Homo sapiens: one gene and its partners. The protein of the gene in region 1 interacts with the protein of each later gene in a biochemical or structural test. Each region holds a gene or a part of one and is shown in the gene's direction. Other genes may lie near its edges. The genes, in order: FBLN5, ELN, LOXL1 and LPA.

Region 1 (7,000 bases):
AGTGGCTTTTTTCACTTAACATAATACAGTCAGGGTTCATTCATATTGTAGCATGTGTCAGAATTTCCTTCCTTTTTAAGACTGAATACTATTCCCTTGTGTGTACAGACTGCATTTTGTTTATCCATGTATCCATCGAAGGACTGCGTCCACCTTTAGGCTATTGTGAATAATGCTGCTATGAACACAGGTTTACAAATACCTGTTTCAAGTCCTTGCTTTTAATTTTTTGAGGGTATATACCTAGAAGTAGAATGGCTGGATCACATGGAAATTCTATGTTTAGTGTTTTGGGAGTCATCATACTGTTTTCCATAGAGACTGCACCATATTTACACCAACAGTGCACAGGAGTTTCACTTTCTCCACATCCTCCCTAACGCTTGCTCTTTTCCATTTTTTAATAGCCTCATGAGTGTGAAGTAGTAGAGATTTTGTATTTTTATTTTGTTTTTATTTTTTGAGACAGAGTCTCGCTTTGTCTCAGAGCGTGTACCACCATGCCTGGCAAATTTTTGTATTTTTAGTAGAGAGACAAGGTTTCACCATGTTGGCCAGGCTGGTCTCGAACTCCTGACCTCAGGTGACCTTCCTGCCTCGGCCTCCCAAAGTGCTGGGATTACAGGCATGAGCCACCACACCCGGCTGCTTTTGTATTTTTAAAGCAATCTTGCTGGCCACAATCTTACTGGATTAAAGCCTGTGCGTGGCGAAGGGCAGAGTTGCAGACTCCCAGAGCATCACTGTCTTGTGCATGGCAGAACTGAGCCCAGGGTGCGTGACTCCTCCTCCTGTTTTCCCGCGGGTTTCATTTTCCCTGGGCTGTGCAGGTTCCCCGAGTCCTTTCCTCCATCAGGACCTGCTGGCAGCAGTTCCCGCAGGCCACACTCTTCAGGGGACAGGGCCACCCCAACCCATCCACTGATGGGGGATTTTCACACATGTGGACTCAATGCTCTGGTTCAGTGACTTCCTGTGACACCTTTCTTTGGTGCCACTCAAAGTGCCTCACATTCTCACTTTCTTTTCCTTTCACTGTTTGAGGGCATGATGATGGCTTATTCACTCTGTAATCATGTCAGCATAAAGATGTTCAAAAGTCAAGCACATCTCGCATAAAGAATAAAGACCAAGGAACTGGTTAATACCATAGTGGGAGGTTTTAGCTTTTTTGGGGGGTGGGGGGAGGACAAGGTCTCGCTCTGTCACCCAGGCTGGAGTGCAGTGGTATGATCTCAGCTCACTGCAGCCTCAAACCCCCTGGGCTCAGGTGATCCCACCTCAGCCTCCTGAGTAGCTGGGACTTTAGGCGCGTGCTATCATGCCCAGTTAATTTTTTTTTTAATTTTGTAGAAATGGGGTTTCACCATGTTGCCCAGGCTTGTCTCAAACTCCTGGGTTCAAGCAATCCTCTTGCCTCAGCCTCTCAAAGTGCTGGGATTACAAGCGTAAGCCACCGCACCTGACCTTAGCTTTTTTTTTTGAAGCAGCCAAACCCTTTATTAAAAAGTGTGATCTAACACATGATCCCAATGCAGGAGGCAAGTAGAAGAGGTGTGGTTCTGCTTGGGTGGTCGCGGTGTCTGGAACCACCATGACCTCCCTGGAGCACACCCCACCCCATACAAGCCCAAGGTGATATCACCGTTACACGTCACGGGCCGCATGCGACCCACACTCCCCTAGACCTGAATCTGTCTTGGGCATTTATATTTGACTTTTCACCTCCACAGGATACTCACTGTTACCATTCTGGCTCTCTGTCTTCCAAGCCCTGGGAATGCACAGGTAAGATTTTTATTTTTAAAAAATATCTACAAGCGTATTAAAATCCGGGGTGAGGGAGTCCAGCCTTGCGCTACGGAACCCTAGGTTTGTGGGGGTGGGAGTGGCTTTACAGTTGACCTCATCTGAGCTCTTCATTCTCAGAGGTTAACAGTGGAAGCTCAGAGAAAGTGAGACTTGGCCCAGGTGACATGACTTGTAAGTGACAAGGCTGGGGCTGGTACTCAGTTTCCTGACTCCCAGTCCAAGACTCTTTTCTATTTTATTATAAGTTCTAGGGTACATGTGCAGGATGTGCAGGTTTGTTACATAGGTAAATGTGGGCCATGGTGGTTTGCTGCACCTATCAATTCATCACTAGGTATTAAGCCCAGCATCCATTTTTAATCAGATCACATGGCCTCATTTGTGCCCCTCACAGCAGGCCTCAACCTACCTTCAGTGTTGAAAAGTAAAATATGCTGTAGTGTTTCTGGGCAATGGCACCTGAGGACCCCCACGGGTCTGCATGTGTTGCCACAGACACACCCCTCCTGGAGGAGGTGGGAGAGGAAGTGGGTGTTACCCAAACATCCCAGCATGTAGTGTTGCATAATTCAGCTCCAAACCTAGGAGGGCCCATCCCTGGGCTGAAACCCCTCAGAGGAGTAAGAAGGGGGTGGGTGAGGCCAGGCTCAGGGCCTTAGGGGTTCTGGAAGAAGCTTGCAGCATCCTGGACTTTATTTTAAGCAACAGGAGAGATGGACCCCTGTGTGTCAGCCCTGAAATGTGGGCAGATCCCTCCTGAAAACTCCGAGTGGCCTCTCTGTGTCTCTGGCTCAGGAAAGAAGTGAGAGAAGCCCTATCTCTGAGCAGGCTGAGGGCTGCAGGCAGGTAGGGGAGCATTTTCTCTCTTCATATTAAGAATTTTGAAGCATATTCAGGCCACTGGCAATGGGAAGGATTTTGGGAGGAGTAACAAAGAATTTTAGACCTTGCGGTTTTCTAAGGCAGCCTCATGGTGTACACATGAAGACAGGTAGGCCCCAAGGGCAGAGGTTCAGGGTCGTGTTTACTGCACTTTAGGCACGTTATATAGATTAACATACATCGTCCTTACCACCATTTTGAACTACGTACATACCCCCCCATTTTACAGATGGGGAAACTGAGGCATAGAAAAGTTACGCAGAGAGTAGGGGCTAGAGTGAGAATTTGAAGCCATGCCCTGGTCCAGCAGTCTTGAACCTATGCCAGTCCTTGACAACCAGGGCTGGAACCTGGATCTCCTGGCCTCCCAGCTTCCCGGCACAGCTTCCTGGCTCGTCTGTTCCACTTCCTTTGCCCCAACTCCCTGGGACCCCTGAACCCTCTCCCGGGAGTGCAGGCCATATACATCATCTCTGCAAATCAACCAACAGCTCAGCGAAGCCCAACCTCCGAAGCTGTAGAAAAGGCCAGGGATGGGAGCTCCTAGAAAATGTCAGGCCCTGGGGTCTTCCTGAAGAGTCCACCCAACACATTTTTTTTTTAAGTACATACATTTGTAGCTCAAGTTGTATGTAAAAGCTACAACCCTCTGGAATTGTTGAGATCTATCTCTTTCTGGAAGCATCTTTATGTCGTCATCTTGCTGAGGTTGAAATGGAGAAATTTACTCAATTCAACTTTTCTTAGAAAACTGACCACATCTCTGTGTAGCTTTTATTTATGTACAGACATCAAAATCAGGTAGAGGATTTCATGGGGGCAAATAACTCATATTCGACACTCTGAAGGCGAGGTAGCACCTAAAGAAAGAGTCATTGCCCTTAAAAGCAGTCTTATTCATTCCCAGAAAGGGGATGAACAGGGAGCATGCCACATTAGGCTCAGCAGATATGATTCCTCTTGCTCTTCACAACTACAGCATTAAAAACCCTGAAACCTGTCTGCTAAAAATGGGAGCTATGAAGCAATGGTACAGGGAGTTTTTTTTTAAATAAAGTTTTTCTAAAAACACAGAGATGGGGTCTTGAGGGCGGTCTCAAAATCCTGGGCTCAAGAAATCCTTCCTCCTCAGCCTCCCAAAGTGCTGGGATTACATGCATGAGCCACTGCGCCTGGCCTGGTGTGGGGAGTTTAGAAAGTAGTTCTAAGTATAAAATAATTACAAGGAAAAATTTTAGAAGAACAAATAGGGGTTATAATACAGGTATTGGTATTTTGGAGGCCTTTCTTTTTTGCTCCATTTCCCCAACTTTCTGTGTTGCAGCAATAAGACTTTTATGGTGTGAAATGACCTTGCCTGTTTCTCCTCTCTCCTTCCCTGCAGGCACAGTGCACGAATGGCTTTGACCTGGATCGCCAGTCAGGACAGTGTTTAGGTATGAGCCACTGTGGATCCTTCATTGGGGTGGAGGCATTCAGCCCAGTTGCAGTGCTATTTATTTCTTTCTCTGTTGTTCAATGATTAGCCATGCCCATGGGAGAATACAGTGACATGGAATGACTGAAGTCAGTGGTGCCCTTTTATTGATCACCTTCTTTGTGCCTGGCCTTGAGCTAAGCACTGAGAGGGGTGAAAGAATTGATCTCTGTTCTCTTGAAGGTTTCTATTGGATTGGTGTTTCCTAGGGCTGCCGTAACAAATTACCACCAACTTAGTGGCTTAAACAACACCAGTGTATGATTTTACAGTTCAGTAGGTCAGAAGTTTGACTTGAGTCTCCACCAGAATAGAATTAAGGTGTCAGTAGGGCTGTGTGCTCTTCTGGAGGCTCTAAGGGAGACTTTTATTCCCTTCTGGTTGTTGGCAGAATTGAGTTTCTTGTGGTTGTAGGACTGAGGTTCTGTTTCCTTGCTGACTGTCAGTGGAGGGCAATTCCTACCTTTTAGAAGCCTCCTGCTTTCCTTGGCTGGTGGCTCCTCCCTCCATCCTCAAAGCCAACACAGCGAGTCAAGCGTTTCTCACTTTGAATCTCTTCTTTTTCTGTTGTAGCATCTCTCTGACCAATCAGCCTCTTCTTCTTCTACTTTTAAGAACTCCTGTGAATATATCGGGCCCACCCAGAAAATCCAGGATAACCTCCCCATCTCAAGGTCAGCTGCTTAGTAAGCTTAATTCCAGCTGCTACCTTAATTCCCCTTTGCCGTGTAACCCAACCTATTCACAGGTTCTGAGGACTAGGAAGAGATTTTGGAGTGTTTGTGGGGGTCATTCTCTTAGCATGCCATCTTTTGCAATGGACTCTGCAAAAGAAGAGGAGAAAGTAATACCTTATGTCCAGGGTCAATAAAGCATCGATGGGGCCGGGTGCGGTGGCTCACGCCTGTAATCCCAGCACTTTGGGAGGCCGAGGCGAGTGCATCACCTGAGGGCAGGAGTGCGAGACCAGCCTGGCCAACATGGTGAAACCCTGTCTCTACTAAAAATACAAAAAAATTAGCCAGGAGTAGTGGCATGTGCTTGTAGCCCCAGCTACTCAGGAAGCTGAGGCAGGAGAATGGTTTGAACCTGGGAGGCAGAGGTTGCAATGAGCTGAGATCGCACCACTGTACTCCAGCCTGGGCAACAGAGAGAGACTCTGTCTCAAAAAAAAAAAAAAAAAAAATTAATGGAGGTCACATTTGAATTGGGTATTGAAAGATGAATAGGATCCTAAGAAATGCCATTCCAGGTAGAAGGAACAGCATTAACAAGGACCAGGTGTGGAAAGGACACTCAGAGCATGGAATAGTTTGTTGTTGACAGAGCATAGGGCATATGAACGGAAGAAGACAGCCCTACTTGCCCCCATCTTAGGGGAAGTATTTAGCTTTTAAATTATATTTAATTTAAGCAAAATCATTTGTCTTCTCTGAGCTAACGTCACCATGCTCCAGAGGGGAGATAGATGGTTTGAAAAATCGATGAACAGTGAGGAATAAAACCCTGTCCTGGGAAATCTGGGCTTACGTTTTGATTTTAAAATAAGGTGTTTTGATTTGAAGATTTGATGAGGAATCAAGAGTAGAGCAGTGGCCTTCTTTTCTGGCCCCCCATTTCAGCGATGGCTTCAGGCTTCAAGCTGGAGAACAGGCTGTTGCATTCTGCACCTTGCCATTGCTTTTACCTCTGGTAGGATTGGGTGTGAGTTTCTCAGATGAGATGCTGGGGGTGAGTTGTCGGGTGCAGGCATGTGGTCTCCAGTCTCTAGCCCCGCACAGAGCAGACTCCAAGGCTGCTGACATGGCTCGGTATACGGGATCATGTCTACTGCTCGCTGGAGCCACAGTTCAGGCCTCCCCTGTCTGTACCCTAGCAAGGCTGATTTTCTAGAGAGTCCACCTCTCCCCTTCCAGACATAACAAGCAGAGCCCAGCCTGGCTAGAAATTGTTGGCTGGCACAGAGCTGACTTGAAAGCAAAGCTCTGCTTTCTTAACAAGCAACTAGCTGTCAGTCAAGCCTTTTCTTTTTTTTCTTTTTTCTTTTTTTTGTTTTTGTTTTTGTTTTGAGATGGAGTTTCCCTCTCGTCGCCTAGGCTGGAGTGCAATGGCGCAATCTCAGCTCACTGCAACCTCTGCCTCCCGGGTTCAAGCGATTCTTCTGCCTCAGCCTCCCAAGTAGCTGGAATTACAGGCATGTGCCACCACACCCATCTAATTTTTGGTATTTAGTAGAGATGGGATTTCCCCATGTTGGGAGGCTGGTCTTGAACTCCTGACCTCAGGTGATCCACCTGCCTCGGCCTCCCAAAGTGCTGGGATTACAGGCATGAGCCACTGTGCCCAGCCTAAGCCTTGTCTTTTCCTGATGCAAGAGACTCTTTCTCCCCTGACCACTGTTACTTGAAGTAGAAGTGGAGACAATTGTTAGGCCCATCCCAGTATTTTCAGAGTATAGTATGTGCACACGAGGATCCTTGATGTATTAGATGGTACATCTGCAGATAAACACTCTTTATTTTAATAGTGTATATTTATTTTTACTGTTACCTTCTACTTATGCTAGTTTTCACTTGCTGTAGTCATGTAAGACTTTAAATATACATTTATTTGGGCTTCAAATATGGGCTTACTTAAAGAAAGAGTATGTGCAAATGATAGTACAGGTTTGTTTTAGTCCGTTCTCTGTTGCTTATACCTAAATACCTAAAACTGGGTAATTTATAAAGAAGAGGAATTTATTTCTTACAATTGTGGAAGCTGAGAAGTCCAAGGTTGAGGATCTCCATCTGGTGAGGGCCTTCTTGCTGGTGGGGGCTCTCTGCAGAG
Region 2 (4,235 bases), on another chromosome or scaffold:
TGGGGACAGTGCCAGGCTGAGCTCAGGGTTGAGGCCATGAGGTGCCACACCTGGTTGCTAGGTGGCGGCATGTTGTGTTGAGAAAGCCACTCTGGCTGTAGTGAGGGGGATTGGCTGGGCGTGGTGGCTCACGCCTGTAATCCCAGCACTTTGGGAGGCCTAGGTGGGTGGATCACTTGAGGTCAGGAGTTCGAGACCAGTCTGGTCAACATGGTGAAACCCTGTCTCTACTAAAAAAAATGCAAAAATTAGCCAAACGTGGTGGACGCCTGTAATCCCAGCTACTCGGGAGGCTGAGGCGGGAGAATCACTGGAGCCTGGGAAGCGGAGGTTGCAGTGAGCCAAGATCGCACCACTGCACTCCAGCCTGGGTGACAGAGCAAGACCCCATCTCAAAAAAATAATAATAAAATAAAATATAAAAAATTATATAGTGGGGGGGATGGAGAGGAGGTGATCCCAGACAGAGGTCTTGGGTGAGCCAGTGCAGGCAGAAAGTGATGAGGCTGGAGTCAGTTTCCACCCCTACCAACCCACCAACCTGAAATCTCTCCTGCAGGAGTGGCAGCAAGACCTGGCTTCGGATTGTCTCCCATTTTCCCAGGTATGCCAGGCTCCCTGCCCCTGGGCCCTGCCCTGGAGCTGCAGCCACCTCCTCCCTCCTCTCCTGTGCCATCTCCTGCTCAGAAGGGCTGAGCCAGCACCCAGGGGTGGACCCCACAGCCTCAGGTCACACGAGGCTGGACCCCGAGCTGAATGTAGAGCCTCCCCTCCTTCTTGCTGACCTCTTATAAACACAGGGAACATTTGCTTTTTAAAAACACAGTTCATGGCCAGGTGTGATGGCTCACACCTGTAATCCCAGCACTTTGGGAGGCTGAGGAGGGCAGATCACCTGAGGTCAGGAGTTCAAGACCAGCCTGGCCAACATGGCGAAACCCTGTCTCTATTAAAAATACTAAAATTAGCCGGGTGTGGTGGCTCACGCCTGTAATCCCAGCCCTTTGGGAGGCCAAGGCAGGTGGATCACGAGGTCAGGAGATGGAAACCATCCTGGCTGAAACGGTGAAACCCCGTCTCTACTAAAAATACTATAGTCTTCTTTTTTTTTTTGAGATGGAGTCTTGCTCTGTTGCCCAGGCTGGAGTGCAGTGGCACGATCTTGGCTCACTGCAACCTCTGCCTCCTAGGTTCAAGCGATTCTTCTGCCTCAGCCTCCCAAGTAGCTGGGACTACAGGCATACACCACTACGCCCAGCTAATTTTTGTATTTTTAGTAGAGACGGGGTTTCACCATATTGGCCAGGCTGGTCTCGAACTCCTGACCTCGTGATCCGCCCGCCTCGGCCTCCCAAAGTGCTGGGATTACAGGAGTGAGCCACCACGTCCGGCCGTCTCTACTAAAAATACAAAAAATTAGCCGGGCATGGTGGCGGGCACCTGTAGTCTCAGCTACTCGGGAGGCTCACGCAGGAGAATGGTGTGAACCCGGGAGGCGGAGCATGGTGTGAACCCGGGAGGCGGAGCTTGCAGTGAGCCGAGATTGCGCCACTGCACTCCAGCCTGGGCGGCACAGCAAGACTCCGTCTCAAAAAAAAAAAAAAAATTAGCCAGGTGTGGTGGTGCACGCCTGTAATCCCAGCTACTCTGGAGGCTGAGACAGGAGAATTGCTTGAACCCAGGAGGCGGAGGTTGCAGTGAGCTGAGACTACACCACTGCCCTCTAGCCTGGGTGATGACAGGGCAAGACGATTGCGTCTCAAAAAAAAAAAAAAAAAAAAAAAAAAACCTTCAGAGGCAGATGTCTGTTCCTGCCCCACTCTCTGCTCACTGCCACCAGGTGGCGGTAAGGAGCCATATCTGGCTCAAGCAGGGTTAGGAACTGCTCCGGGCCGCGCTACTAGACAATGGTGCCTTACCTAATACAGACTGATGCCTTGAAACAGGGTTCACCCATCAGACTATTCCCAGGAGGGGGTAGGAATCCTGGGTTTGAGTCCCAGCTCAGACACTATGTGGATAAGACCCTCTCTCCCTCTACTGGGCCTTGATTTACTTATCTGATGCCCTCTCAGATGTATGGGTCCACCCCACTCCCTGAGAGGGCCGTCTCCTGCAGACACTGACTCTCCCTTCATCCCATGTTCCTTGATGGAGCTGCTCTTAGCCTTTCCCCGAAAGGCTTCTTGGAGCAGTGGAGCCAGGAGCCAGTGCCAGGCCCCGTCCTTCCCCAGCCAGGCCCCATGACCTGCCCCCTTTTCTGCGAGCGTTGGTTTCATCCAAGTAATATCTTGGGGGCTTCTCCCGCCCCATCTGTCCAGTGGAAGTTGATGGCATGGATCAGGTCTGAGTTTGGCCTGGGGCCATGACTTGGCTTCTCTTGGCTTCTTGGAGCCTCCATTCGAGTGGGTCAGAGCAGGCGGGGATTAGAGCCGAAACTGAGAGGGGCCGGACTCACAGTGATGTGCACCTCCTCCCGTCCAGGTGGGGCCTGCCTGGGGAAAGCTTGTGGCCGGAAGAGAAAATGAGCTTCCTAGGACCCCTGACTCACGACCTCATCAACGTTGGTGCTACTGCTTGGTGGAGAATGTAAACCCTTTGTAACCCCATCCCATGCCCCTCCGACTCCCCACCCCAGGAGGGAACGGGCAGGCCGGGCGGCCTTGCAGATCCACAGGGCAAGGAAACAAGAGGGGAGCGGCCAAGTGCCCCGACCAGGAGGCCCCCTACTTCAGAGGCAAGGGCCATGTGGTCCTGGCCCCCCACCCCATCCCTTCCCACCTAGGAGCTCCCCCTCCACACAGCCTCCATCTCCAGGGGAACTTGGTGCTACACGCTGGTGCTCTTATCTTCCTGGGGGGAGGGAGGAGGGAAGGGTGGCCCCTCGGGGAACCCCCTACCTGGGGCTCCTCTAAAGATGGTGCAGACACTTCCTGGGCAGTCCCAGCTCCCCCTGCCCACCAGGACCCACCGTTGGCTGCCATCCAGTTGGTACCCAAGCACCTGAAGCCTCAAAGCTGGATTCGCTCTAGCATCCCTCCTCTCCTGGGTCCACTTGGCCGTCTCCTCCCCACCGATCGCTGTTCCCCACATCTGGGGCGCTTTTGGGTTGGAAAACCACCCCACACTGGGAATAGCCACCTTGCCCTTGTAGAATCCATCCGCCCATCCGTCCATTCATCCATCGGTCCGTCCATCCATGTCCCCAGTTGACCGCCCGGCACCACTAGCTGGCTGGGTGCACCCACCATCAACCTGGTTGACCTGTCATGGCCGCCTGTGCCCTGCCTCCACCCCCATCCTACACTCCCCCAGGGCGTGCGGGGCTGTGCAGACTGGGGTGCCAGGCATCTCCTCCCCACCCGGGGTGTCCCCACATGCAGTACTGTATACCCCCCATCCCTCCCTCGGTCCACTGAACTTCAGAGCAGTTCCCATTCCTGCCCCGCCCATCTTTTTGTGTCTCGCTGTGATAGATCAATAAATATTTTATTTTTTGTCCTGGATATTTGGGGATTATTTTTGATTGTTGATATTCTCTTTTGGTTTTATTGTTGTGGTTCATTGAAAAAAAAAGATAATTTTTTTTTCTGATCCGGGGAGCTGTATCCCCAGTAGAAAAAACATTTTAATCACTCTAATATAACTCTGGATGAAACACACCTTTTTTTTTAATAAGAAAAGAGAATTAACTGCTTCAGAAATGACTAATAAATGAAAAACCTTTAAAGGAAACTGTGTCTTAGCTTCCTTCGTATGATTTAATCTGCCTTCAACTCGCTGGCCTGGATGGGGATAAGGGCTCTGCTTCAGGGAACCTCCACCACCCACAGTGTATTTGAGAGGTTGCCCAACCAAAAGCCCCTGCTGCTGGCTTCTGGGGCATCGATCTTTCTCCAAGTTTGGCTTGTACTTTAACAATGAGGCCAGGAGTTTGAGACCCACCTGGACAACATAGCTGTCCAGTGGAGAATCACTTTGTACCATATAGCTACAAAAAAAAAAAAAATTACCCAAGATTGGTGGTGGTGCATGCCTGTGGTCCCAGCTACTCAGGAGGCTGAGGTGGGAGGATCGCTTGAGCCCAGGATTTCGAGGCTGCAGTGAGCTATGATTGCGCCACTGCACTCCAGCCTGGGTGAGACAGCAAGATCCTGTCTCGAGAGAGAGAGAGAGAGAAACAGAAAGAGACAGAGAGGAAAGATGGCTGACCTAAGAAAATGCAGAAGACAGTC
Region 3 (7,067 bases), on another chromosome or scaffold:
ATGGAGCCATGTCCACAGAGGACAGTTGTGGCTTTGGCTGGTCCAGGCTGCCTCTGCCTAGTCACAGCAGGGGCAGTGAGCCCGGGGGACAAAGAAGTTTCAGTTATATGTTGCACTGGAAAGAGGGGAAGGAGACCAGTTTCCATGAACCTAGAAGGTGAGCACAGCTGGCTCGCCATTATTCATGGGTGATCCTGCCTCTCGCAGTGTTTGCTTCTAATTTATAAGCAGTTCATATTCTGCTGGAACATAGGTGCTTTGCGGATACCTCCCTGGGCCAAAATAATTAGTTAAGATTATGTTATCTGCTTCTTTTGTTAATATCCCTTTATGTTGAAAGCACCTATTTTTCTTAATTACCTGCTTTTTGGACATTTGAACTCTCTGTTTAGTTTGACTTTTTACTATCTAGGAAACTCTTTAGAATCTCAACATTTTCTCATTTCTAGAACTTCTAGTTCACTGCCACTCTAAGTAGCTGATCATAAACCCTTATCTGTCTGTAACAAGATAAAGAGCTTGAACTAGAATGTAACTCAACTCACTCCTTCATTGAGAAAGTCTTGCTTTAAAAAAAGAAAAAGTATCCGCTGAACTAAGCAGAGTGATTAGGAATGTTGTCGATGTACATTCTGGTGCAAGTTCCCAATCCCATCCCAGACTGGCATCAGTGTGGGAACTGCCCCTGGTCCAGGGACCGCAGGCTGAGTACCACTCAGCCAGCCTGTCTGGGCAGTTCTTGTCTTGTTTCAGTTGTCTTGGGGAAGAGAGCATAATGGTCCTGCTGGAATTCCTCCAGCAATGAGGAACTTACAGCCTCCATGACAGCCCTTCCAGTCTTAAGAGAATTAGTCAAAGTCAAACTATTAACATCACTGCCTCTTCATGAAGGATCCTGAGTGCCCGGACCTGCGCTCCCAGCTGGGGAGAGGAGGCAGCCTGTCCTCTGTCCTGGAGGGTCTCCTGGTACAGCTGGAGAGAACAGCCCTCACCTGTACCCCAGTGACAGAACCAAGACACGAGTGGGAAAAGAGCCAGAAGGACTGGTTCACAGGCCAGGGCTGCTGGAGGTCAGAGGAGGGAGGGATCAGCAAGGGCTGAGGCCTCAGAGGAGGTGGGCGTGGGAGTTCAGACCTGGAGAATCCTGCAAAACTGGAGCCCTGGGGCAGGAGGGCCCTCTGAGATCATTTCAAGTATGGGCCGCAGGCTGGTGCCAGTTCACATGCTGCAGGCAGAACCCAGAGAAGAAAAGGGACCAATTCCAAGTCTCACCACCAGTTTGTGGCCAAGCTGGGCCTAGAACCTAGACCCTTATGGTTTCCCACGGTGTGCTGAGCCGAACAGAAGGGCAGGATTTAACTGAACAGAGGGAAGGAGGATGTTTTGTTTCAACCCAGACATAGACAGATTCCAAGCCTCCCCCAGACAAGGCTGAGGGCCTTTCATCCTGGCAGACAGTCTGAGCCGCCTGTTGTCCAGACATTCTCTCAAAGAGAGCGCTAATCCCTACGACTGGCCACCGCTCCCCTCTGGCCTTAGGATCGGACCTTAATGAGTGCCAGGGAAGAGCCCCTGAGGCCAACAGAGTTAGCTGTCAGCCGTCAGCTAAAGAGGGGAGGGGCCTTCAGCCACCCCTTCCTGTTCCTACCACACATGTGTGTGCATGTGTGTGTATGTGTGCATGTGTGTGTGTCTCCCCTCACTGCAGCCCCTCGTTCCTCTTTCCACCCTTTTCCTTTTGTCACAAGGCCTACCTCAGTTGGAAATCTGGAGTCAGCAGGTGACTTGCGAGCAGGCAATTCATACCAGACCCATGTTCCCTGAATGGAAAAGGGCAGGTTGCCAGCCTGAAGCCATGCAATCAGGGAGAGGTGGTCTGGACCCAGTGCAAGATGTAGATGGTATCGGGCTGTGCTGCAGTCAGTGCTGTTAGAGCTCACAGGCAATCCGGATCCTCTATGTAGAGCAATCAGGGCAGACTTCCTGGAGGAGGGGACTTTTGAGTTGACCCTAGGATACTGGGTGAGTTTTGGAATTCTGGGTCAAGCAAACAGCATGGGCAAAAGTATGGGTCAGGGAAAAAGTTCAGCCTGTTTGGAAAATAGGCTTTGAAGCAGGAACCCAGGGTGTGTGGGGGAGTGGAAGGGCAGATGGGACTAGAAAAGTGAAGAGGCTTTGACCAGAGGACTTCACGTCTGTTTTTCAGGCCCACACCCAAGACATGGCATACTTTGGTCAACAATTAGGGCTCTGTCTTGTTGTCAGAGACTTATCAGAATCTCCTGGATAGGACTTTTTTTTTTCTTTTTTTTAGAAAGGGGGTCTCACTCTGTTGCCCAGACTGGAGTGCAGCAGCACAATTATAGCTCATTGCAGCCTCAAATTCCTGGGCTCAAGGGATCAGTCTCCAAGTAGCTGGGACTACAGGCATAAGCCACCTTACCTGGCTAATTTTTTAATTTTTTAAAAATTTCTTTAATTAAATTAATTTTTTAAATTTTAATTTCTCACTATGTTGCCCAGGCTGGTCTCAAACTATGGGCCTCAAGTGATCCTCCTGCCTCGACCTCCAAAAAGCTCTGTAATTACAGGCATGAGCCAAAGTGCCTGGCCCCCGCAATAGGGCTGTTTTTCAGTGGCCCTTCAGAGATTGCTATGTGCTCCTGCACCTAGGGGCTGACCCCAGCTGAGTCACCTGCAGGTATCAGGGACACTGCCATGCTTGGTACCGCTTTAGAAAGATGCTGTTGGCAGCTGGCGGCCACATGGTGGAGGCCAGAAAGGAGGGGACAGCCAGGATTTCACGGGGTCAGAAGACAGAGGAAGAGGCCTGAGCCTCCGCCACAGTTCGAGGAGACAGAGGAGAAGATCTTCAGGGACAAGGAGTGGGGCTGCAGAACCAGTGGCCAAGGGCTGGGGGTGGGGCTGAGGGGGCCCATGCTGGGTTCTGGTGTCACTGTGCCCCAACCCCCCCTCATCTCCCCCGCCGTCCCTGCAGCACAGCCTATGCCCCTGAGGCCACCGACTACGATGTGCGGGTGCTACTGCGCTTCCCCCAGCGCGTGAAGAACCAGGGCACAGCAGACTTCCTCCCCAACCGGCCACGGCACACCTGGGAGTGGCACAGCTGCCACCAGTGAGTGGGGAGGGGCTGGGCCCGTCCTCTTCCACTTCTCCTCTGGGCCAGGGACCTTGGTGCCTGAGCTCCCCTCCCACCATGAGCACTCTGGGAGACACAGATACTGGATTAGAGGGCCCGGGGAGGTGTTACCTGCCAACTCTTTTCACTGGGGCAAGTGTTTCTCAGAGAAGCCTTAGCCAAAGCTAGGCTGGAAGATGGATATAGAAGGATTGGTCTCAATCAGGGATGGAAATGTCTAGAATACAGGGCATTGCCCAGTGAGGCCATTACAGGTGGGAGCCCAAAAAGGAAGTGAGGGGTCTAGAGCATGTGCTGTCCTGGAGTGACCCAGCTAGGTGGGGAGCACAGAGGGGCCACCCCGCAGTACTCAGGAGACAGGAGAACCTAGACCAGCCAGGAGGCTGTGCCACAGCAGGGTCACCTGAGCCCATCTCAGGATGGGGACAGGATGAGAGGCCCAGGGAAGACTAGGCCCTCTTCTTTCTCCTTCTCTCCTCTGCCCCTAGGCATTACCACAGCATGGACGAGTTCAGCCACTACGACCTACTGGATGCAGCCACAGGCAAGAAGGTGGCCGAGGGCCACAAGGCCAGTTTCTGCCTGGAGGACAGCACCTGTGACTTCGGCAACCTCAAGCGCTATGCATGCACCTCTCATACCCAGGTTGGGCTGGAGAGATGGGGTTTGGGGCATGGGAGGATAAGGAGTTGGGGAGGCAAAGAGCGAGGCCCGCTGAGGCCCGGCAAGTGCCAAGGCTTCTGGCCACTCAGCTCTGCTCACAGTGAAGGTCTTCTCACCAGTCCTCAGGCTGCCACACTGCCCTGCAGGGACTGTTCCCTCCCTGCCCCAGCCCCTTTCCCATGTTATTCCAGGTGATCTGCTCGTGGAGAGAAGGAAACATCGCAACAGTCTGGAGAGCAACACGTCCTATTGGCCTGTTCACCCACCCATATCCCTCTTTCCATCAGCCACCCTAAATATCCACAAACTGTCCATCTGTCCTGTCTCTTTTTATCCATTCTGCCATCCATCTCGTCCCTCCCACCTGGCTATTAGATATCTGTCTTTCCTCTGGTCCATCTAGCCAGTGGCTTTAGGAAGGTGTGGACCCACCCTGAGCAGTTGCCCTGGGCCAGGGTCAGGGGAGAAACCCAGGGGAAGGTGGGCCAGAAACTCCTGAAGGTGGGCGTGGGGTGGCTCTGGGAAACAAGCAGCATCACAGCCGCTCCTCTTGTCCCTTTCCCAGGGCCTGAGCCCAGGCTGCTATGACACCTACAATGCGGACATCGACTGCCAGTGGATCGACATAACCGACGTGCAGCCTGGGAACTACATCCTCAAGGTGGGCCTCTGGGTCTGGGGCTTTCCCTCCAACCTGATGTTCATGTCCAATGTCCCCCCGTTCCTGAAAGAAGCTTCAGCCTCTGGGCCTGTTCCCTTCTCCCCAGCTGCCGAGCAGAGGCAGCATCTGAGGCATCACTTGAGGTTTAGGCTTCCCAGCCGAAGATTTAGGTCTCAGGCTGACATAGCCTCTCTTTCCATAAAGAACCCAGGGAACCTTTGCCCCAGCTGTGGTAATGCCAGAGGCAGTGGTGATACTGTCTCCCTAAGTGACAGAGGACCAGGGAGAGCAAGAAAGACTTGGAGAGCCATGTGGTCTATCTTCCTGTCTTCGGACAGGGCAGACTTTGTATCATTTGGGAGACAGATGAGAGGCCCTCAGCTCCTTATAGGGACCCCTGCAAAGCCAAGGGCTCCTGTGACTAAGACCCTTTTAGCCTGAACCCCTCCTGCTCTAATGGACACTCACTCCATCACCTCTTCCCTTGGTTGAGGGAAAAGTAGAAAAGCATATTAACAACACACATCCAGACTTGGTACATCCGTGTAGGCCAGGTTGTCATGGGCCCACCTGGGGAAGCCATGTCTCAGCCTCCTCCACACAGGTATAAAATGAGTAGGGATCATTCCACCAGTTCATCTGGACCCACTCAGAAGCAGAAAAGCAGCTCAGTAAAGGCAGAGCAGTGAAGCCAGGTTTGCAGGCGGAGGCCTTCCCTGCAGAAAGTCAGCAGGTGGAGAGATGCATCCGGCAGCGGTTCTCTGCAGTTCCCTCCTGAGTGCTCTTCAGCAGGCTCCAAGCTTGCTCCTCCAGGGCCTGGGGTTGTCCAGTATATTTTTTCTTTTCCTCATTCATCCACTCAATCAACATGTAGGAAGTCCCCTCTGAGTTCTAGGCACTAGACACACAAACCACATAAGCAATGCAGTTCACAGTCCCTGCCCTTTGGGAGTGTACCAGGATTTGAAAGTTGCATCCCTGCATCTGTTCTTAGATGTTCTGCAAATAAAGCTGGCCCTACCCTAGTTAATCCAACATTTAAAAGTGTTGTATCCCAACAGCTCCTTTTCAGACAAAAAGCACAGATCATACTTGGGCCATCATCTCAGTGAATGTTGGGCACGTGGGGCTCCAGAGCAGGGGATCAGACAGGCCCTCGATCAGTCACCTAGACAGGGATGCATAGGGAATGACTTTGAGCCTTGGATTTGGGGAGACCAGGTGTTGAATCCTGGCTCAGCTCCTCATTACTGCATTCCCTCGGGCAGGATCCAACCTCTCTGACCCCAAATGCCCCATGCGGGGCCCACCTGGCATAGGCTCTAGCTCTAGGGAAACATCCAATCTTCTGATAAGGGGGATTAGATGATGTTTTCTTGGATTACCAGCTGCCTCTTCTTTCCCCTCTGTGTCTCTCTAGCAGTGTGTCTCTGTTCTCCCTCTCTCTGTCACCTCTCTGTCTGTCTGTCTGCCTCTTTACCACCTTCTCTGGTGAGCAGTTGAGGTGCAGCCCCCCTGACTAGACTCCCTTTCTCCCTGTTTCTCTTCTTCCTCAGGTGCACGTGAACCCAAAGTATATTGTTTTGGAGTCTGACTTCACCAACAACGTGGTGAGATGCAACATTCACTACACAGGTCGCTACGTTTCTGCAACAAACTGCAAAATTGTCCAGTAAGAGTTTGCCCACCACCCTTCCTGGCTCCGTCCCTTTCCTGCCTGGGGAGCAGGCAAGGCCACCTGAGATACCTAAGATACCTGCACTTTAGGTCACCTTGATGGCCGAACGCAGCTGCAGCAGGGCCCATCAAAAAGAGCCTTGTCCGTGCCAACCCCAAGCTGAGTGTTTACGGTGGGGCTCAGGCCGTAGGGTGTTGATCTGGGGCTGCATCCTGTGGCTCCCTGAGATGTCCCAAGTGAAAACCAGCAGAAGGCAGAGTCATTTGATGCAAGGCCATGAGCTCTGCAGTCCCAGTTCCACAGCTTCCTCGCTATGTGACATTGGGTTACTTCCCTGAGCTACTTTCCTCAACTATAAAATAGGTATTTCCACATAGGCTGGCAATGAGGATCTACAGGCCTGATGTCTGCATGTTCACAGTGGCACACAGTGAACAGCAGCTGTGATCATTAGTGTCCTTTTCAAGTGGACTGGATTAAACAGTCACAGATTAGAAGTGATTCTGGTTCAAAGGAGCCATCTTCAGTCCCTAGGCCCCCATTGTAGAAGAAGTGCCTAAAATCTGGGCTTGGGATTTTGGCACATGCTGCTGGGTAGGGTCCTCAGTCTTTCTCCTGATTCCCCATGTGAAGTAGTTTGCAGAGGGACCCCTTGCTTACAAGCTCACAAGGAAACCCCACCACACTCCAGATCGAAGCAACCCTTTTCCATTAAAAAAAAAAAAAAAAATTAGTCCTAGAGCTTTCAGCTTTAGTTCATCAACTGGGAGAAAGGTGGTAGAGATCTTAAGGCCCAGAGAGGTATCTTTCCCTAAAAGTGTGTACTTATTAATGGATGGCAGGTATGAGAGATTAAGCCTATGACTATGGTCAGGGTGTGGTGTATGGCCAGGGTCAGGATTCAG
Region 4 (7,153 bases), on another chromosome or scaffold:
TCAGGCCTGTTCATCAATTTTCTACATGTCAATAATGACATCAGGTCAATTGGCGTTCTCAGCCTCTGAGAGGGAGGTCAAAGTTTTCCTGCTCTCCCCTTCATGTTTCCAGGTGTTCCCTGACTTGGATCAAATGCAGAGTTTGGAGGTGTTGAGGCCAAGGGGATTTTCCAGGTCAGTCGTCATCCACAATCAATGGACTGATCCTGCCGCTGGACTTACCCTGCTGCCCTCTCCCCAAGGCCCCATCAGGGAGGGCTTCAATCCTCTTGTCACCTGTGGCCTACCTGCCCTCAGAGATGACATCTCTATGTCGGCCACTGGATGGCAGCACCTACTCGCAGACCACATCAACTTTCCTGGCAACTTGCGGTAGGTTTTCACCATTATCAGGATGTTTGCCTTGCTCAAATAGCAGATTCTAGAGAACGGTGCTCCCTCACACAACTATGTAGTCCAGGTGATGCACCCTCTGCCCGATGCTTGGTAGTCAGAAACTTCCATCATGCAGCTCTGCCCAGATTGAGCTGAGCTGGCCTCTGGAGTGAGGTGCTGGGACAAACATCTTCCATGCTGCTCATGTCAACTCCAGATGCAGTCAGGTTTCTGAACCAAAGTCAATGATCTAAGTGCAGTCAAAGGCTCTGGGGGAAGAAAGAGAGAGTGCCTCATCTCTTGCCTGTGCCATGCTCGCAAAGCAAGGATTTTTGCAAAATTCTAATGAAAGCTGGGCTTGCAAAATTAGAAAACTGGATTATTTGTGAGAACACTGAAACATCCCTGGGTGTGTCCATCTGGAAAAACAGCATTTCCTCTGGCAATTTTGCAACCGTTCTATTTGAATTTGGCAAAGAAAATAAAGCAGTTTTTCACAAAAGAATAAACACAACCAGGAGAATCTTCACTCTCCCAAATTGTCAAAGAAGTATAAATTAGAAAATGAATCAGGACAATTTCAACCTGTTAGATTAGCTAATATTTAAAAATTGAACACTCATACAAGTGTGGTGAAGTGATTGTTTTCTAGTGACATTTTACACTGTCATAACCTTCTAGAAAATAAATTGGCAGTGTTATTGGGAGACAGAAATATGTCTATATAATTTATGGGAACTTAGGCTCAGAAAATATTAAGGAATAAGAATGAACTTTATGAACAAAGATGTGGAGGGTTGGAAGCAAGAGGGGGGCCAACGCGCACGGGGAGGAAGCATTTGGGCAGTGACTCCGCAGACCCAGGCTCAGGTTGAACTAGACAACCTCCTTACACCTCAGTTTCCTTAACTGTAGAGCAGGAGTGATGGAACTGCCTGTTTCATAGGACTGTTGTGAGGATGAAGTGAGATACACCACATTATAAGCTTGTGCCTGGAAAGGATAATGCTTAGTAAATGATGACTATTCTTTTTTATTGCAATAAAATGTACACAGCGTAAGAGTTACTATTTTAACCATTTTTGCAGGGTACCACCAAGTGGCATTTAGTACATTCACAGTGGTGTGCAACCATCATCATATTTCCAGAATATTTTCCTCATCCCCAAAGGAAACCTCATGCTCATTAATCAGTAGCTCTCCTTTAAAATATTAGTTATGAAGATCATAGCACTATACAAAACTCATTATGTAATGTTGAGTGAAAAAATCAGGGTGTGAAATTTTGTGATATGATGTAATTAGTGAAAGAAGCATACAAAAAGTCTGAAAATATAAAAACAATAGCAATTGCATTTCTCAGACTCTACATTTAAACATTATTCTTTATGGTTTTAAAAGCAAAGAAAAAGGTAAAGAAACAACAACCAACCGCAAAGCACCATGACAAAGCTCAGATTGTTAAATCCAGGTTTTTGGAACATAGACTCTTATATGACGTTTACACTCTCCAGGGTTCAGAGAGTCTGGCAGCATTGGGAGCTGCCTTGTGTTCTACAGCCTCACGGACAGACAGGAGGTCCATCACCACTGCTCTGTTCTTCTGGAGTTTCCTTGTGAACATGTTGTGGACGTAGTTACCATTTCTTTCATCTTTTTAAACACAGGTACCTTTGGGGCTGGCTTTCTCAAGGAAGCCCAGCTCCCTGTGATTGAGAATGAAGTGTGCAATCGCTATGAGTTTCTGAATGGAAGAGTCAAATCCACTGAGCTCTGTGCTGGGCATTTGGCTGGAGGCATTGACAGTTGCAAGGTAAGAAAAGATCAAGAGACCAAAGTTAGTCTTGTGCTCTCCTGTCTCAGTCTCAGTCCCTTAGACTTGAGTCCCAAAGTAGCGAATTCAAGTAGGATTTAATCAATGGAAGACCCCAGTCTAAGTGTTGCTCAGAAACTCCCTAGATCTGTCCCAAATGTATATTCAGATCATCCAAGGGGACTTCTTGGGGCTTGAGTTCCAGATCAGCAGCAAGGGAGCCATAAGTGCCATAACTACCTCAGACCACTCACCCTCCTGGGGTGTCCCGGTGGCCAGGGACTAAAGTGGTGATTTTTCTGGTAGGGAAGGAGGTAGAGGGTACAGGACAGAGACTAACTGCACACAATATCTGAGACTGGAGCTCAGATATTGCTGATGATCAGAGTTGGCGTGTCTCCCCAATTGATTTACAACTGGGGCTTGGATACTGTTTTAAACGGGAGGAGCCTCCTAACCATCTTGACACAACCACTGACGTGACTACACTAGAGATAGACTCTTTCCACTTAATTCTACCACTCTTGCTTTACTTCATGAGAACGAAAATGTAAGATTGCACCATGAATTCATTTGCGGAAAGATTGATACTATGCTTTTATTTTATTTTATTTTATTTTATTTTATTTTATTTTATTTTATTGAGACTCTCACCCCGGTTGAAGTGCACTGACGTGATTTTGGCTCACTGCAACTTCCACCTCCTGGGTTCAAGTGAATACTCCAGCCTCCCTAGTAGCTGGGATTACAGGTGCCCACCACCACGCCTGGCTAATTTTTGTATTTTTAGTAGAGATGGGGTTTCACCACATTGGCCTGGCTGGTCTCAAACTCCTGACCTTGTGATCCACCTGTCTTGGCCTCCCAAAGTGCTGGGATTACAGAGTTGAGCCACCGCACTCGACCCTATGTTTTATTTTTAAAAATATTTATTTATTTATTTAAGCCACAACTACTAGAATAGGAAGGATTGATATTTTATTAATTTTATTTGGTATTTATTATTTTTTTTTCTTTCCTGAGACATTCTTGCTCTGTCACCCAGGCTGGAGTGCAGTGGCACATTCTTGGCTCACTGCAACCTCCATCTCCTGTGTTCAAGCAATTCTAGTGCCTCAGCCTACTTAGTAGCTGGGATGACTGGCATGTGCCTCCACACCCAGCTAATTTTTGTATTTTTTGTAGAGACAGGGTTTTGGCATGTTGCCCAGGCTTGTCTCAAACTCCTGGCCTCAGGTGATCCATCTGCCGTGGCCTCCCAAAATGCTGGGATTATAGGCATGAGCCACCACCCCCTCCTGGAAGGATTGATATCTTATAACATAATTTATAATTACAGAAAACATGTGAGTTCACTAGGAATAAATAAATTTTGAAGATAATAAAAGATTTTCACTTATGTTGTCATTTCGGCACAGTTTGGTATAGGATGTGGAGATGTTAACATTTATACCTAGCTTGCTCGTAAACTAAGACCTGAAAGGGTTGTGTCTATCAGCTGCACCCCTGGGTAGCGACACAACCTCGGGAAGGCCTCAGCCCCCTCCTCGTACAGCACTGCCTGTTGGAAAGCTTGAGGGAGGCTATGGATGTGCAGCACTTGGCAGAGGGTCTGGTCATGGAAGTTACCAGCAAATATGAGCTACTTTTATGATTTTATTTTATCCAAAAGAAAGAGAATGAAAGAAGAGGGGAGGAAACAAGACTAATCAGGAAAGATGAAGGTCTAGGGGTGAGGGAAGGAGTAAGGAGACATAAAGGCAATGTGGAGCAGCTGAGGGGGGAAATGGCTTTCACCACTTCCCAGCATCTATTGACATTGCACTCTCAAATATTTTATAAGACTCTATATTCAAGGTAATGTTTGAACCCTGCTGAGCCAGTGGCATGGGTCTCTGAGAGAATCATTAACTTAATTTGACTATCTGGTTTGTGGGTGCGTTTACTCTCATGTAAGTCAACAATGTCCTGGGATTGGGACACACTTTCTGGGCACTGCTGGCCAGTCCCAAAATGGAACATAAGGAAGTGGTTCTTCTACTTCTTTTATTTCTGAAATCAGGTAAGACATAGTTTTTTTAAATTATAAGAATTATTTTTTCTCCCACAATGTAGTAAAAATACATATGCCATGGCTTTATGTGCAATTCATTTAATTTTTGATTCATGAAATTCCCAGTTCAAAATCTTGTATATGATTGAAAAATTCTTAAAAAAATAAGTTTAATTTCCCCGTGAAGACTGTCACGGTGCTGGAATGAATGGGCAGAAAAAATAATGGTTGATTTTTCTAATCTAAAAGAGTGTGCCTACATGATGGCCAGTCTGGCTGAAAAATAAATAGCCATTGTAGCTAACTATGCAAAGGATGGCTAAGCTCTTCGCTTGGTTCTCAGTTTCATTAATTTATATCATCTCTGTTCAGGTGCCATGCTCCCCTCACTAGCAAGTTGAAACAATGAAATAACTCTTTGAATATGTTTGGTTCCTTGACCTGTTCATGGAGTGGGACTCAGCATTTCTCTCTTTGTTATGGCCTGAGTAAGGCTTTCCATCGGTATACATTTGCTTCTTATCCCTGGAGAAATTATACACATCCATTTGCCAGATGATATACGCATATAATGATTCAACAAATACTCAGGGTATTTGTTGAGTGGGTTAGGTCCCCACATTTTTATACATACATACACACATACACACCGTGTGTGATTGTGAATGTAAGTGTGTGTCCTTTACAAATACTAGCTTATTTAGCTCATGGTATAGGTAGGGTAGCATAGTCATCCCCATTTTATAAACAAAGAAATCTAGACTTAGGAAAATCATGTTATTTGTCTCGTGACCAAATTCCCAAATCAAGGAAATAAAGAAACCTGGATTTAAGCCAGATTTCCAAGAAAAAATCTAGGGCTCTTCTCACTTTTTCATCTTTGTTCCAACATTTGAAAAAATAAATCTAAACACATTCCAATGTAACTGAAGAGCAGGTTAATTGTTTGCCACTTGCAGAATCCAATTAAGAAGAGAGAAGTCTGGTATAAAGAAAGTGATTTGCTTCCAAAGCTAGCTTAGGGGAAGAAATGCAGCAGTCCTGCCGTACTACTTCACTTTAGGAGCAGAAAGTGGCACTTTTAAAAGGCAACAGAGGAGGCGAGCAAGGATTCAGGGGTCCATGCTAGCTTGGGCACCTTATCCACCAGGTAGTTGAGCAGTTGCCTGCTGGTGCCTTTGTGAGCAGGGTGTTGTCCCTTGAGGCAAATCTCTGGAGGGTGAGAGTTTTGTAGTGGGCATGCTTTGGTTTATAAATCACCTGTGAACTCAGGAGTTCCATCTTGAAGCACATACATAGTTAGATGAACTTGCCCTGCAGGGAGAGTCTGATGAAAGGGAGGTAGATGCTTGCAATTTAATCTATAAATTACCAGATAAAATTTTACAAGTTGACTTTAAAGTCAAACACATTTGAATTTAGTGGAAGCCATTCAAGAAAATATCAAAGAAAATACAGAGCAGGAGAAGATTAAGCAAAGAGTTTTTTGGGGAAATTGGTGTCTATGTCTGTGTGTGTAGGGAGTGCAGGGGATATGAATATTCTATTTCAGCCCATGGAAACTAGGATGTAGATCACTGTGAACTTATTCAGCAGGCTACACCCAAAGGCTAGAACAAACTTCTCTGCCACAGGATTAACATATGTTTTAATCGACCTGGGGGGCACATTCTCTGATAAGCTCTTTTGGAAAGCCAGGCTTTCTGTGGACGTGTTATCTTTCCAATGTGTGCTGGAATGCCCGGGGAGAGGAAAAAGTTTCTTTTACAGCCATGCTCAGTGAGAAGCGGAGAAACATCTTCTATTCACAAATTGCTAAGTCTTTTACACATGCAAATATGCATACACATTCACACACCACAGTGAGGAAGAAATTCTCACACCATTAATAAAATACATTTACTTCAGTAGCAATATACATCTACATTTTGCCTATAATATAAAAGTATTTTTCCTATTAAAAGATTTGTTTAATGTTTCTTCACCAACAAATAAACCCTATTAAATCCCCATTGCCATATGAGCCCTGGAGGTGAATCAGAGAAACAAAAGGATTGTGGAAAAATCATCAGGTTAAAAAAAGAAAAATTGATTCTGTTTTGGGATATTTCCTAGCAACATGAGCTGGGGAGGGGATCTCAGCAGTGATGCTCTATGAAGCATAATAAAATGACACAGTTACAGGTAACTTAGTTAAAGGGGGAAATAAATGGAAGTTTCCTCTTTTTGAATATCAATTGTAGCCTGCTCTGCTACATTTCAAAAACACTCTTCAAAATGTTTAACTGAACTCACTGTAGGAAGCACCTTATTAATTTATTGTGTGTTTTGAAGTCACACTGTGAGCTATAGAATTTACCCAAGCACAACTCTTCCTGGAAAAGAGAGTTCAAATGAGAAACAGTGCGGGGTGAAGACATGGATATGGGCCTAAAATATCTATTTCTCAATGATATTTTGATATATCTATCAAGTGCTTTTTAGTGGATTAGGTTCAGAATGCATCAGCCAATGCCTGTTCAATAATCCAGTTTTCCAGCATAGAGCATATTAAATTGAGGAAGGACAAAGTCACAGAGGTGGGGAGCAGGTGGACTGTGGCCAAGGACTTTGCATGAAACAGTGAGCGTGCATCCTCCTCCTTGCCCTGCCCTCATGGTCTGTGTACTCTCAGGAGGTCAGGACAGGCCTTTCTGAGAATGAGAATCTGTTCATCTGCCTTTCTACTGGATACTTGTCATCGGCATACAAACACATGTTCTCTGCAGTGTGTCATCTTTCAGAACCTCCCCTGACCCTGTATTCCCTAGAAGTCTCGCTGCTTTCAGAGCCAGGCTTCTCTCCTGCTGCCACCCCCACTGCTCTTCTAGTCACTCTTTAACCCACTCCATCTGCATGTGGCCCCCACCACA

Evidence for each region.
Region 2: the proteins of FBLN5 (region 1) and ELN form a complex in vitro, tested with the Homo sapiens proteins (one study listed by IntAct).
Region 3: the proteins of FBLN5 (region 1) and LOXL1 form a complex in vitro, tested with the Homo sapiens proteins (2 studies listed by BioGRID and IntAct).
Region 4: the proteins of FBLN5 (region 1) and LPA form a complex in vitro, tested with the Homo sapiens proteins (one study listed by BioGRID).

What each region holds. Positions count from the first base shown.
Region 1 is NC_000014.9:91,937,695-91,944,694, reverse strand, and holds part of FBLN5 (fibulin-5 isoform 1 precursor), read left to right. Parts: intron 1-1,733; coding exon 1,734-1,788; intron 1,789-4,078; coding exon 4,079-4,130; intron 4,131-4,744; exon of another isoform or gene 4,745-4,845; intron 4,846-6,242; coding exon of another isoform or gene 6,243-6,365; intron 6,366-7,000. UniProt on the Homo sapiens protein: Essential for elastic fiber formation, is involved in the assembly of continuous elastin (ELN) polymer and promotes the interaction of microfibrils and ELN. Stabilizes and organizes elastic fibers in the skin, lung and vasculature.
Region 2 is NC_000007.14:74,066,173-74,070,407, forward strand, and holds the end of ELN (elastin isoform a precursor), read left to right. Parts: intron 1-559; coding exon 560-604; intron 605-2,484; coding exon 2,485-2,528; 3' UTR 2,529-3,735; downstream 3,736-4,235. UniProt on the Homo sapiens protein: Major structural protein of tissues such as aorta and nuchal ligament, which must expand rapidly and recover completely.
Region 3 is NC_000015.10:73,943,419-73,950,485, forward strand, and holds part of LOXL1 (lysyl oxidase homolog 1 preproprotein), read left to right. Parts: intron 1-2,998; coding exon 2,999-3,136; intron 3,137-3,648; coding exon 3,649-3,805; intron 3,806-4,388; coding exon 4,389-4,484; intron 4,485-6,040; coding exon 6,041-6,156; intron 6,157-7,067. UniProt on the Homo sapiens protein: Catalyzes the oxidative deamination of lysine and hydroxylysine residues in collagen and elastin, resulting in the formation of covalent cross-linkages, and the stabilization of collagen and elastin fibers.
Region 4 is NC_000006.12:160,661,263-160,668,415, reverse strand, and holds the start of LPA (apolipoprotein(a) precursor), read left to right. Parts: upstream 1-4,140; 5' UTR 4,141-4,201; coding exon 4,202-4,250; intron 4,251-7,153. UniProt on the Homo sapiens protein: Apo(a) is the main constituent of lipoprotein(a) (Lp(a)). It has serine proteinase activity and is able of autoproteolysis. Inhibits tissue-type plasminogen activator 1. Lp(a) may be a ligand for megalin/Gp 330.